Homo sapiens: one gene and its partners. The protein of the gene in region 1 interacts with the protein of each later gene in a pairwise test. Each region holds a gene or a part of one and is shown in the gene's direction. Other genes may lie near its edges.

Region 1 (3,561 bases):
GCCTGTAGTCCCAGCTACTCGGGAGGCTGAGGCAGGAGAATCACTTGAACCTGGGAGGCGGAGGTTGCAGTGAGCCGAGATTGCGCCGCTGCGCTCTAGCCTGGGCGACAAGAGCAAAAACTCCTTCTCAAAAAAAAAAAAAAAAAGTCAGGCAAGGTCATTGCCCCTTGGAGCTATGCTGTAGGTGAGGAGACAGATAATAGACAGGGAAACATAAAGATCATTTCAACTTGGTGAATGCTATGGAGAAAACAAAACAGATGGGATAGGAGAAGGAAAGGTGCCTCCAGAGAGGGGACATTCCAGCTGAGACTTGAGTGGCAAGATAGGAACCAGCATGGACTGCTACCTGGGAAAAGATTATTCCAAGGAGAGCGAGCAGCAAGTCCAAAGGCCCTGGGGCAGGAACATACTTGGCATTTTCAAGGAAGAGAAAGCAAGCCAGTGTGGCAGAGCCTAGTGAGAGAGGAGAAGGCAGTGGGGAGGAACTGGGGACACGGTGGGACTTCTAGGGTGAGGTGTTCGTACTCAGTTTGGTAAAGTGCCATATCAGCAACTGTCAGGGGGATTCCAAATCAGGGACCAGTTAATCCTGAGAGGATAATCAGGGTGGCGTAGACGTGGTGGCATTTGAGTTGGGCCATGAAAGGTAGGTCAGGGCTGATTACGAAGTGAGCTAATTCTAAGAAACAGTGAGTGACGATTAAATTCCAGAAGAGATCCTGTGTAGGAAGGGCCGAGGCGACCATCTCTGTCTGCCTGTTTGTCCGTGCACCCCTGTGTCACTGCATTCCTGTTTGCTAACTGGGCTTTTGTCCCTCCCTGTAGCGTTGGGCCGGAGCACTAGCCTCACGGAGAAGGATCTGAAAGAAGCCAAGGCGCGGAGCCAGCAGATTGCAGCCCAGCTGACCACCCCTCCCAGCTCCAATTCCCGTGGCGTCCAGCTCTTCAACAGGCGCCGGCAGAGGGTGAACGAGTTCACCTTGGAGAGCCACGGCCAGAGGGGACAGAAGCCCAGCCAGGAGTCCCTCAGAGTGCTCCCTTCAAGCCTCCCAGGCCATGCACCGGGGCTCAGCCTGAGTTCCACCTCGCTGCCGGAGCCAGGCCCTCCACGGCACCCCAGTCCCCAGAGCCCCGACAGAGGGGTCCCTGGCCACAGCATGGAGGGGTACTCAGAGGAGGCTAGCTTGCTGCGGCACCTGGAGAAGGTGGCCAGTGAGGAGGAAGAGGTACCACTGGTGGTTTATCTAAAGGAGAATGCAGCACTGCTGACAGCCAATGGGCTGCACCTGTCCCAAAACCGAGAGGCCCAGCAGTCCTCACCGGCCCCACCTCCAGCTGAGGTCCACAGCCCAGCTGCAGATGTCAACCAAAACCTTGCCTCGCCCAGTGCCACGCTCACCACACCAACTTCTAACAGCAGCCACAATCCGCCAGCCACCGATGTCAATCAGAACCCACCGGCAACTGTTGTCCCACAGAGCCTGCCACTTTCTAGCATCCAACAGAATTCCTCAGAGGCCCAACTCCCATCTAATGGCACAGGGCCTGCTTCCAAACCCAGCACCCTGTGTGCTGATGGGCAACCCCAGGCACCGGCTGAGGAGGTGAGATGCAGCACACTCCTAATTGACAAGGTATCAACTCCAGCTACCACCACCAGCACCTTCTCCAGAGAAGCTACGCTCATCCCCAGCTCCAGGCCCCCAGCCTCAGATTTCATGTCCAGCTCCCTGCTCATTGACATCCAGCCCAACACCCTAGTGGTGTCAGCAGATCAAGAGATGTCTGGGCGAGCAGCTGCCACCACGCCCACCAAGGTCTACAGTGAGGTCCACTTCACACTGGCCAAGCCCCCATCAGTGGTCAACAGGACGGCCAGGCCTTTTGGGATCCAGGCGCCAGGGGGCACCAGCCAGATGGAGAGGAGCCCCATGCTAGAGAGACGACATTTTGGGGAGAAGGCCCCGGCTCCCCAGCCCCCCAGTTTGCCAGACAGGAGCCCCCGGCCACAGAGACACATAATGTCCCGCAGCCCCATGGTGGAAAGGAGGATGATGGGGCAGCGAAGCCCGGCCTCAGAGAGACGCCCCTTGGGGAACTTCACTGCACCCCCCACCTACACTGAGACCTTGTCCACAGCCCCTCTGGCTTCCTGGGTGAGGTCTCCTCCCTCATATTCTGTCCTGTATCCCAGCTCCGACCCCAAGTCTTCTCATCTGAAGGGCCAGGCGGTTCCTGCCAGCAAGACGGGCATTCTGGAGGAGTCGATGGCCCGCCGGGGCAGCCGCAAATCCATGTTTACTTTCGTGGAGAAGCCCAAGGTGACCCCGAATCCAGACTTGCTGGATCTGGTACAGACAGCGGATGAGAAGCGGCGGCAGAGGGACCAGGGGGAGGTAGGCGTGGAGGAGGAGCCCTTCGCACTGGGGGCCGAGGCCTCCAACTTCCAGCAGGAGCCAGCACCTCGTGACAGGGCCAGCCCCGCGGCGGCGGAGGAGGTGGTACCAGAGTGGGCCTCCTGCCTCAAGTCACCCCGCATCCAGGCCAAGCCGAAGCCCAAACCCAACCAGAACCTCTCCGAGGCCTCTGGGAAGGGAGCTGAGCTCTACGCCCGCCGCCAGTCACGGATGGAGAAATATGTCATCGAGTCTTCAAGCCACACGCCAGAGCTGGCCCGCTGCCCATCACCTACCATGTCCCTGCCTTCCTCCTGGAAATACCCCACTAACGCCCCCGGGGCCTTCCGAGTGGCATCCCGAAGCCCAGCCCGGACCCCGCCTGCCTCCCTCTACCATGGCTACCTGCCTGAGAACGGGGTCCTGCGCCCAGAGCCCACCAAGCAGCCGCCATACCAGCTGCGCCCCTCGCTCTTTGTCCTCTCACCTATCAAGGAGCCTGCCAAGGTCTCACCAAGAGCTGCCTCGCCCGCCAAGCCCAGCTCCTTGGACCTGGTGCCCAACCTGCCCAAGGGGGCTCTCCCTCCATCTCCTGCCCTGCCTCGGCCCTCGCGCTCCTCACCGGGCCTCTACACCTCCCCCGGCCAGGACAGCCTGCAGCCCACTGCCGTGAGCCCTCCTTACGGCGGTGACATCTCCCCCGTGTCTCCCTCCAGGGCGTGGTCTCCCCGAGCCAAGCAGGCCCCCAGGCCCTCCTTCTCTACCCGGAACGCCGGGATCGAGGCTCAGGTGTGGAAGCCTTCCTTCTGCTTCAAGTAACGAACCCCACGGGGGTCCCACTGCCGGTCAAGTTCCCCTCCTTGAGGGCCAGATGGAGAGCAGATGTGGCAGGAAATGGCACAGAGCTGAGTGAGGAGAATGGGGAGTCCATGGTTCAAGGTCAGATGCGGCCACCAGCTGGCTTTGTGACCTTGGGCGAGTCGCCTCCCCTCTCTGAGCTGAAGCCGCCCCTCCCCTACTACAACAGGGGTCGGACTCCATGTCTGAGCGGGGAGGAGGGTCATGGAGAGAGAACTGTCTGGCAGCCCTGATGCGGTAGAGGGGCATCCTCTGGCCTTTGTGAGCTGTAGGGATGCAGAGTCTGATGCCAGCGTCTTGCTGG
Region 2 (3,561 bases), on another chromosome or scaffold:
GCACCCATTTAAAGTGTATAATCCAGTGGTTTTTCGCAGCTCACAAAATTGTGCAACCATTAGCACGATCAATTTCAGAACATTTTTAACACCCAACAAAAATGCCCCATATCTTTTCCTTCCACCCTATTAATCCAGGCAAACAAAAACACTCTTTTTTTTTTGGAGACGGAGTCTCACTGTGTCACCTAGGCTGGAGTGCGGTGGCGCGATCTCAGCTCACTGCAACCTCTGCCTCCTGGGTTCAAGCGATTCTTCTGCCTCAGTCTCCCTAGTAGCTGGGATTACAGGCACACACCACCATGTCCGGCTAATTGTTTTTGTATTTTTAGTAGAGACGGGGTTTTGCCATGTTGGCTGTCTCTACTAAAAATACAAAAATTAGCTAGGCTTGGTGGCGGATGCCTATAATCCCAGCTACTGGGGAGGCTGAGGCAGGAGAATCACTTGAACTCGGGAGGCAGAGGTTGCAGTGAGCCGAGATGGCGCCACTGCACTCCAGCCTGGGTGACAAAGCAAGACTCCATCTCAAAAAAAAAAAAAGCCATTTTTCCCCTATTTGATATCTTTTCTTTCACAGATACAAGGGAGATGCGTATTGGTGCCTGTAGCTCACTGCAGGCTATCGGGCATGCTCTGCCACATTTTGCCCACGATACTCAGGGTTTATAGCTACACAAGGATCAGTTTGCTGGCAGTTGTGCACCGCACAGCCAGGAAGGAGTAGATCCCAGAAATTCCTTCCCAAATGGTATTCCTTTTAGACGTAACCTGGAGAGTAAGAGTCAGAAGATGCCGGCACTCATTGCTAAGTGAAAGATGCCAGTCTGAAAGGTTACGTGCTGTGTATTCCAACTGTAAACGAAAAGCAAAACTAGAGAGTGAAAGGATGAGCGGTAGCCAGGGCCTTGGGAGAGATAGGATGAAAGGGATGGATAGGTGGAGCACAGAGGATTTTAGGGGGTGGAACTCTTCTGCAGGGTACCATGATGGGGGGCACGCAACATGATGCGTTGTCCAAACCCATAGAACGGCAGAACACACAGAGTAAACCATCATGGGGATGGATGTAGTTAATTATCTAACAGTATTGGCTCATCAGTTGTTACAAACGCACCACTCTAATGCAAGATGTTAACAATAGGGGAGACTGCGCAGGGCAGAGCAGGTATACATACAGGAACTCTGTGCCATCAGCTCAGCTTTTCTGTAAACCAAAACTGCTCTAAGAAGAGTTTATCAATAAAATACATTGTAAAATAAAGGAAAAAAGGGCTGGGCGTGGTAACTCATGCCTGTAATCCCAGCATGTTGGGAGGCTGAGGCGGGTGGATCACCTGAGGTCAGGAGTTTGAGACCAGTCTGGCCAAATGGCGAAACTCCATCTCTACTAAAAATTAGCCGGGCGTGGTGGTACATGCTTGTAATCCCAGCTACTAGGGAGGCTGAGGCAGGAGAATCGCTTGAACCTGGGAAGTGGAGGTTGCAGTGAGCCAAGATCGCACCACTGCACTCCAGCCTGGGCGACAAGAGCGAAACTCCGTCTCAAAAAAATAAATAAAGGAAAAAAAAGATACAGGCAGATTACGCATTCCATTCAGTCATCCACAGTTAGAACAGTTTATCATCATCCCATACAACCAGGGTGTCCCTCAGACAGCTGCTGCCGAGTTCCCAGACTCCCATCTCACCCGTCAGCTTCCAAAAGCAGGCGTGGTCCTGACAGACACAGGGCTTCGCCCTTTCAGGCACCCAGTGTAACTGACCTAAGAGATGGCATTCTCTCTCTCTCAGCCTCTCTTGAGGTATGAGTACAATATTGGATTTCCCTCATTGCATAACCCATTTAATTTGTTCTGTTAACTCGGCTACTGTTTCTCCTCTCCATTTGTGATTGGTTTTCACCCAAACTTTTCCACCTTTGTAAGGGATGTTAGCTTTGGCCACTGTACCTGGTCCAGATTGCAGCGGCAGCAGTACTAGTCTAGCAAGTATCCCCCCCCAACCCCAATCCATTCCCATTTATATAGGGTGGGGTTACACAGGTATGGACTATTGGCTGTCTTGAGCACTAGGCAGCTAGCTAGCTGTGTTCACTGTTAACCTCATTTTGCAGGTTGAGGTAAAGGCGCAACCCACCCATCAGGCACTTAAAAATTCTCACATAAAGGCTAAAAAGCATAGTCATAATTTCTTTCTTAGGATCTGTCTCAGTTTCCAGCATCTGCAGTTGCAGCTCTGCTCCCAGGATGACTGATATGGGAGGAATTGCACCAGCATTCTTCCCCACCCCTTCTTCTCCACATCAATTGATCATACCTGTATGTGTCTATTTCTGGACTCTGAATTCTGTTCTGTTGATCTATATGCCAGTACCACACCATCGTGATTACCGTAGCTTCGTAATAAATTTTGAAATTGGGAAGTATGAGTTCTCCAACTTTTTTTTTCTTTTTCCAAGATTGGGGATAATCTGGGTCCCGTGAATTTCCATATGAATTTTAGGATGAACTTGTCAATTTCTGCAAAGAAGTCAATTAGAATTTTGATGGGGATTGCGTTGACTGTATAGATTGATTTGTCTCTTTGATAAAGGACTATCATTAAAGATATCACTTATGATTTAACTTTAATGCCTTCTTTTTTTTTTTTTTTTAACAGTCTCACTCTGTCACCCAGGCTGGAGTGCAGTGACATGATCTCAGCTCACTGCAACCTCAGCCTCCCGAGTAGCTAGGACTATACGCACATGCTACAATGCCCGGCTAATTTTTGTATTTTTAGTAGAGGTGGGGTTTCATCATGTTGGCCAGGCTGGTCTTGAACTCCTGATCTCAAGTGATCTGCCCACTTTGGCCTTCCAAAGTGCTGGGATTACAGGCTTAAGCCACTGCACCAGGCCCTTTAAGGCCTTTTATAATGCTTTTGCATTAGTCAAAGGAGAAAATCATCTTGAACTCCTGAATTTGGATTTAGAAAATGAGGGCCATAGCCGGGCGCCCTTGCCTGTAATTCCAGCACTTTGGGAAACCGAGGCAGGTGGATCACGAGGTCAGGAGTTCAAGACCAGCCTGGCCAAGATGGCGAAACCCTGTCTCTACTAAAAATACAAAAAATTAGGCCGGGCGCATTGGCTTACGCCTGTAATCCCAGCACTTTGGGAGGCCGAGGCAGGCGGATCACGAGGTCAGGAGATCGAGACCATCCTGGCTAAGACGGTGAAACTCCGTCTCTTCTAAAACTACAAAAAATTAACCAGGCGTGGTGGCGGGCGCCTGTAGTCCCAGCTACTCGGGAGGCTGAGGCAGGAGAAAGGCGTGAACCCGGGAGGCGGAGCTTGCAGTGAGCCGAGATCGTGCCACTACACTCCAGCCTGGGCGACAGAGTGAGACTCCATCTCAAAAAAAAAAAAAAAAAAAGAAAATGAGGGCCGTATTTTGGGGATGGGGACTCTGGCCTGGCTGGCAGGGTACCACAGCAGCACAAAGGGCCACCGTCATGTCCTGCTGCTCTTTTCCTTACAGGAAGAGCGTTCGCGGAGCGAACACAACTTAGTGAACA
Region 3 (3,561 bases), on another chromosome or scaffold:
TATTTTAATTGGGATAGATAGAGAGTTTCTAATCCTTTGGTGAAATTATGGTAGTGTTAACACAATTAGTTGAAAAGTAAAAGAAGGTTAAAATATGTTAAAAAGCAGTTGCAAACTTCTTAGCAGTTCCATTCTCTGGAAAGGTTCACAGATATCCAAATGTAGCACATTAGGGCCAGTTCATGCAGCCCATTAGTAGAGATGTGATTGTAAGAGAAATCAGCTAATTTCTGATCTGATCCCAATCAGATCTTTTTTGTTTTTGTTTTTGTTTTTTTGAGGCAGAGTCGGCAGTGGCTCAACCTCCAACTCCCAGGTTCAAGCAATTCTCATGCCCCAGCCTCCCAAGTAGCTGGGATTACAAGCATGTAATCCCAAACCAAATGTATAAGAACACCTGGCTAATTTTTGTATTTTTGTATTTTTAGTTGCACTATGTTGGCCAGACTGGTCTGAAACTTCTGGCCTCAGGTGATCCGCCCGCCTCAGCCTCCCAAAGTGCGGATTACAGGCATGAGCCACTATGCCCAGCTATGATCCTAATCAAATTCTAATCCTAATTTTGACATACTTTTTGAGTGGACTTGAATTCAACTGGGAACCGGGGAGCAGAGAGTCAATTTTAGGACAACCGACCTATTGAAAGCAACCTACCAAAAATAATTTTAAACACCCATTGCTCTGTAGTGACCTCCATCATTTTTGAACACCTCTTTTGTATTTGCTCTGATGCACGTTTATAGGAAAGTCTAAGCAGAGACTGCCTAGCAAACCTTTTTGTATAATGATTCAACACATTTTCTAATAGGGTAAAAAAAAAAGCAATCATGGAATTGCAGAATGGAATCTGGGTATCCACTAGGTACTCTGGTCTTCTTACGCTGCTCAGACATGTGGCCCATCTAGGTTTTCTAAAGCTAAAAAGCTCTGGAATAGTACATATGGCCCTATTACCTATGGATTCTTTTCTTTTTTTTTTTTTTTTTTTGAGTGCAGTGGCATGATGTCGGCTCACTGCAGCCTCTGCCTCTGGGTTCAAGCAATTCTCCTTCCTCAGCCTCCTGAGTAGCTGGGATTATAGGCACCCTCCACCACGCCTGGCTAATTTTTATATTTTTAGTAGAGACAGGGTTTCATCATGTTGGCCAGGCTGGTCTCGAACTCCTGACCTCAGGTGATCCGCCCACCTTGGCCTCCCAAAGTGCTGGGATATTATAGGCGTGAGCCACAACACCCAGCCTATCTATTGAGTCTTAGTGTCATTCCTCACTTCTCCCGTTAGTGAGGACTTTGTTCTTCTCATCAGTTTGTAGCTTTTGACCCATCATTCATCACTCAGTGGAACAAACCAAATGTATAAGAACAGTGCCTGATGAGTGCATGGGAAGAGCTGGACATGTTTCCTCATGCCACTTTATCTTTTGGCAGGTAACCTGTCTGGTCAGAGTGCAGCTTCAGTCTTGCACCCCCAGCAGACCCTCCACCCTCCTGGCAACATCCCAGAGTCCGGGCAGAATCAGCTGTTACAGCCCCTTAAGCCATCTCCCTCCAGTGACAACCTCTATTCAGCCTTCACCAGTGATGGTGCCATTTCAGTACCAAGCCTTTCTGCTCCAGGTCAAGGTAATAAAGCAACCATCATCGTCCAAAAACAATAAAATGGAGATGTTGCCATACCTGGGACAAAAGCCTGTTAAGGCGGGTTGGGAGACTAGCTGACCAGAACACAGCCTGTGTGTTGTACACTGAAGAATCTGGGTGAAAAGGGAAGTGGAGTGATAATGAGAATCGGTGGGCTCACTGCTCCCATTAGGTGAAATTACTTTTTTTCAAGGAATTACAGTGAAAAGTTACATCTGTGTGGCCTATATGACTTGCTCATTTGGGATTTGGAACTTAGGCTTTAATATTAGGCTGAGATTTCCTGGATGAAATTCTAAGGTGTTTTAGCAGTTTCTGAAGCTAATACATTTTCTTAGCCATTGTAGAATTTTGTTACTTTTAAGTATGGGAGTGGCATACTAAAATGAATAACCTTACAATTCAGTTTTTTATCCATAATCTACTTTCCAAATATAGCTCTGTTTATTAGTGATTGCTGAAAAAATTCCCACAGAGGAAAGAGCTTTTAGTCATATTAGAACAAGAATTGAAAAGACTTGGGCATCTGGGTGAGAAGAATGAAAAAAATATAGGTACTGGCTTATGTGCCTTTGCCACAGTTTCACAGAAATTAGAGATCAGTCTCTTCACAGGAAGAATGCACTTGATTGGTAAGGAGGGCAAACTAGCTAGCATTATTCGAACTAAGAAAAGCTTCCGCATTTTGCAGATGGGTAGAATTAAGACCTAATATTTCATCTCTTACATATCTGACCTTCCCCCCAGAAGCTTGTTCTTCTGTGTGCCATCTTAGTGCATTTCACCACTCCAGCCTCAAGTTTCTAACATCTTGTAGTTGTGTTCTGTCTCTTCTCCTCTCTCTGTTCTACCCTGTTTTTCCCCTCTCACAGGCTGTGCGAAGTTTAACTGTGCATCTGAACAGGTGACATTCAAACCTGGTGGCAGGAGGACCCGATTTCTGAGTACGCCCTGCTTGGCTCTTTGTGTGTAACACCTTTACTCCTTCCTTGTCCTTGTGTTTCTGCTGCTTGGATCTGATGTTTCACGCAGTCCATTTTCATTTGTCTCTTTTTGTATATCATCTACTCAGTGGCTTGGCTGAATTACTGTTACCCTCAGAAGTTTGGGCCCCCACATTAATTATGATAAAAAATGTCAAAATAACAAGTTATCTACAAATTTCAATGTAACTTTCTGGTAGAAGTGCTTCTTCATGGATCTGTGACAGAGAGTGGATATGGTATCTAGGCAATAGATTGCTGGGTCATTTAGAATAATGAAGACTGAACTCCACAGTCGTAGTCAGTGCTGTCTGTCTGCCCTAGCATTAGAAATGAGAGAAATCAGCCAGACACGGTGGCGTACACCTGTAATCCCAGCACTTTGGGAGGCCGAGGCGGGAAGATTGCTTGAGGCCAGGAGCTCGAGACCAACCCTGGGCAACATGGTGATACCCCATCTCTAAAAAAAAAAAAAAAGTTAGCCTGGCATGGTGGTGTGCACCTATAGTCCCAGCTGCCCAGGAGGCTGAGGCGGGAGGATTACCACCTTAAGACCAGGAGGTTGAGACTGCAGTGAGCCATGATTGCACCACTGCACCCCAGCCTGAGCGACAGAGTGAGACTCTATCTCAAAAAAAAGAAACGAAATGAAGAAAGCATTTTGACCAATGATGCTCTTAGATCCTGGCAGCAGGTAAAAATTATGTACCATTTTTTTCCATTCTTTGTCAGAGTAGATTGAAATCTTATTTTTCTTCTCTATTAAGCCTAAGCAGCTACCAGTTGAAAAGATGCTAGGATCTCTTCATTGGATCATTCCACCACTACTGTCCTCTAACCCCATAAAATCAAAAGCGGTTTTTAGTTTGGTTATTCTGATAAAGCACTTAGTCTAATAAAGATCAAAGCCCAGCATCTGCAAGTGAAAATTCTCCTT

The links.
Region 2: the proteins of SYNPO (region 1) and SGF29 interact in binary tests that used the Homo sapiens proteins (3 or more experiments, as listed by UniProt).
Region 3: the proteins of SYNPO (region 1) and WNK1 interact in a two-hybrid assay, tested with the Homo sapiens proteins (one large-scale study listed by IntAct).

What each region holds. Positions count from the first base shown.
Region 1 is NC_000005.10:150,647,116-150,650,676, forward strand, and holds part of SYNPO (synaptopodin), read left to right. Parts: intron 1-828; coding exon of another isoform or gene 829-1,160; coding exon 1,161-3,188; coding exon of another isoform or gene 3,189-3,218; exon of another isoform or gene 3,219-3,561. UniProt on the Homo sapiens protein: Actin-associated protein that may play a role in modulating actin-based shape and motility of dendritic spines and renal podocyte foot processes.
Region 2 is NC_000016.10:28,581,389-28,584,949, forward strand, and holds part of SGF29 (SAGA-associated factor 29), read left to right. Parts: intron 1-3,524; coding exon 3,525-3,561. UniProt on the Homo sapiens protein: Chromatin reader component of some histone acetyltransferase (HAT) SAGA-type complexes like the TFTC-HAT, ATAC or STAGA complexes.
Region 3 is NC_000012.12:899,048-902,608, forward strand, and holds part of WNK1 (serine/threonine-protein kinase WNK1), read left to right. Parts: intron 1-1,428; coding exon 1,429-1,623; intron 1,624-3,561. UniProt on the Homo sapiens protein: Serine/threonine-protein kinase component of the WNK1-SPAK/OSR1 kinase cascade, which acts as a key regulator of blood pressure and regulatory volume increase by promoting ion influx.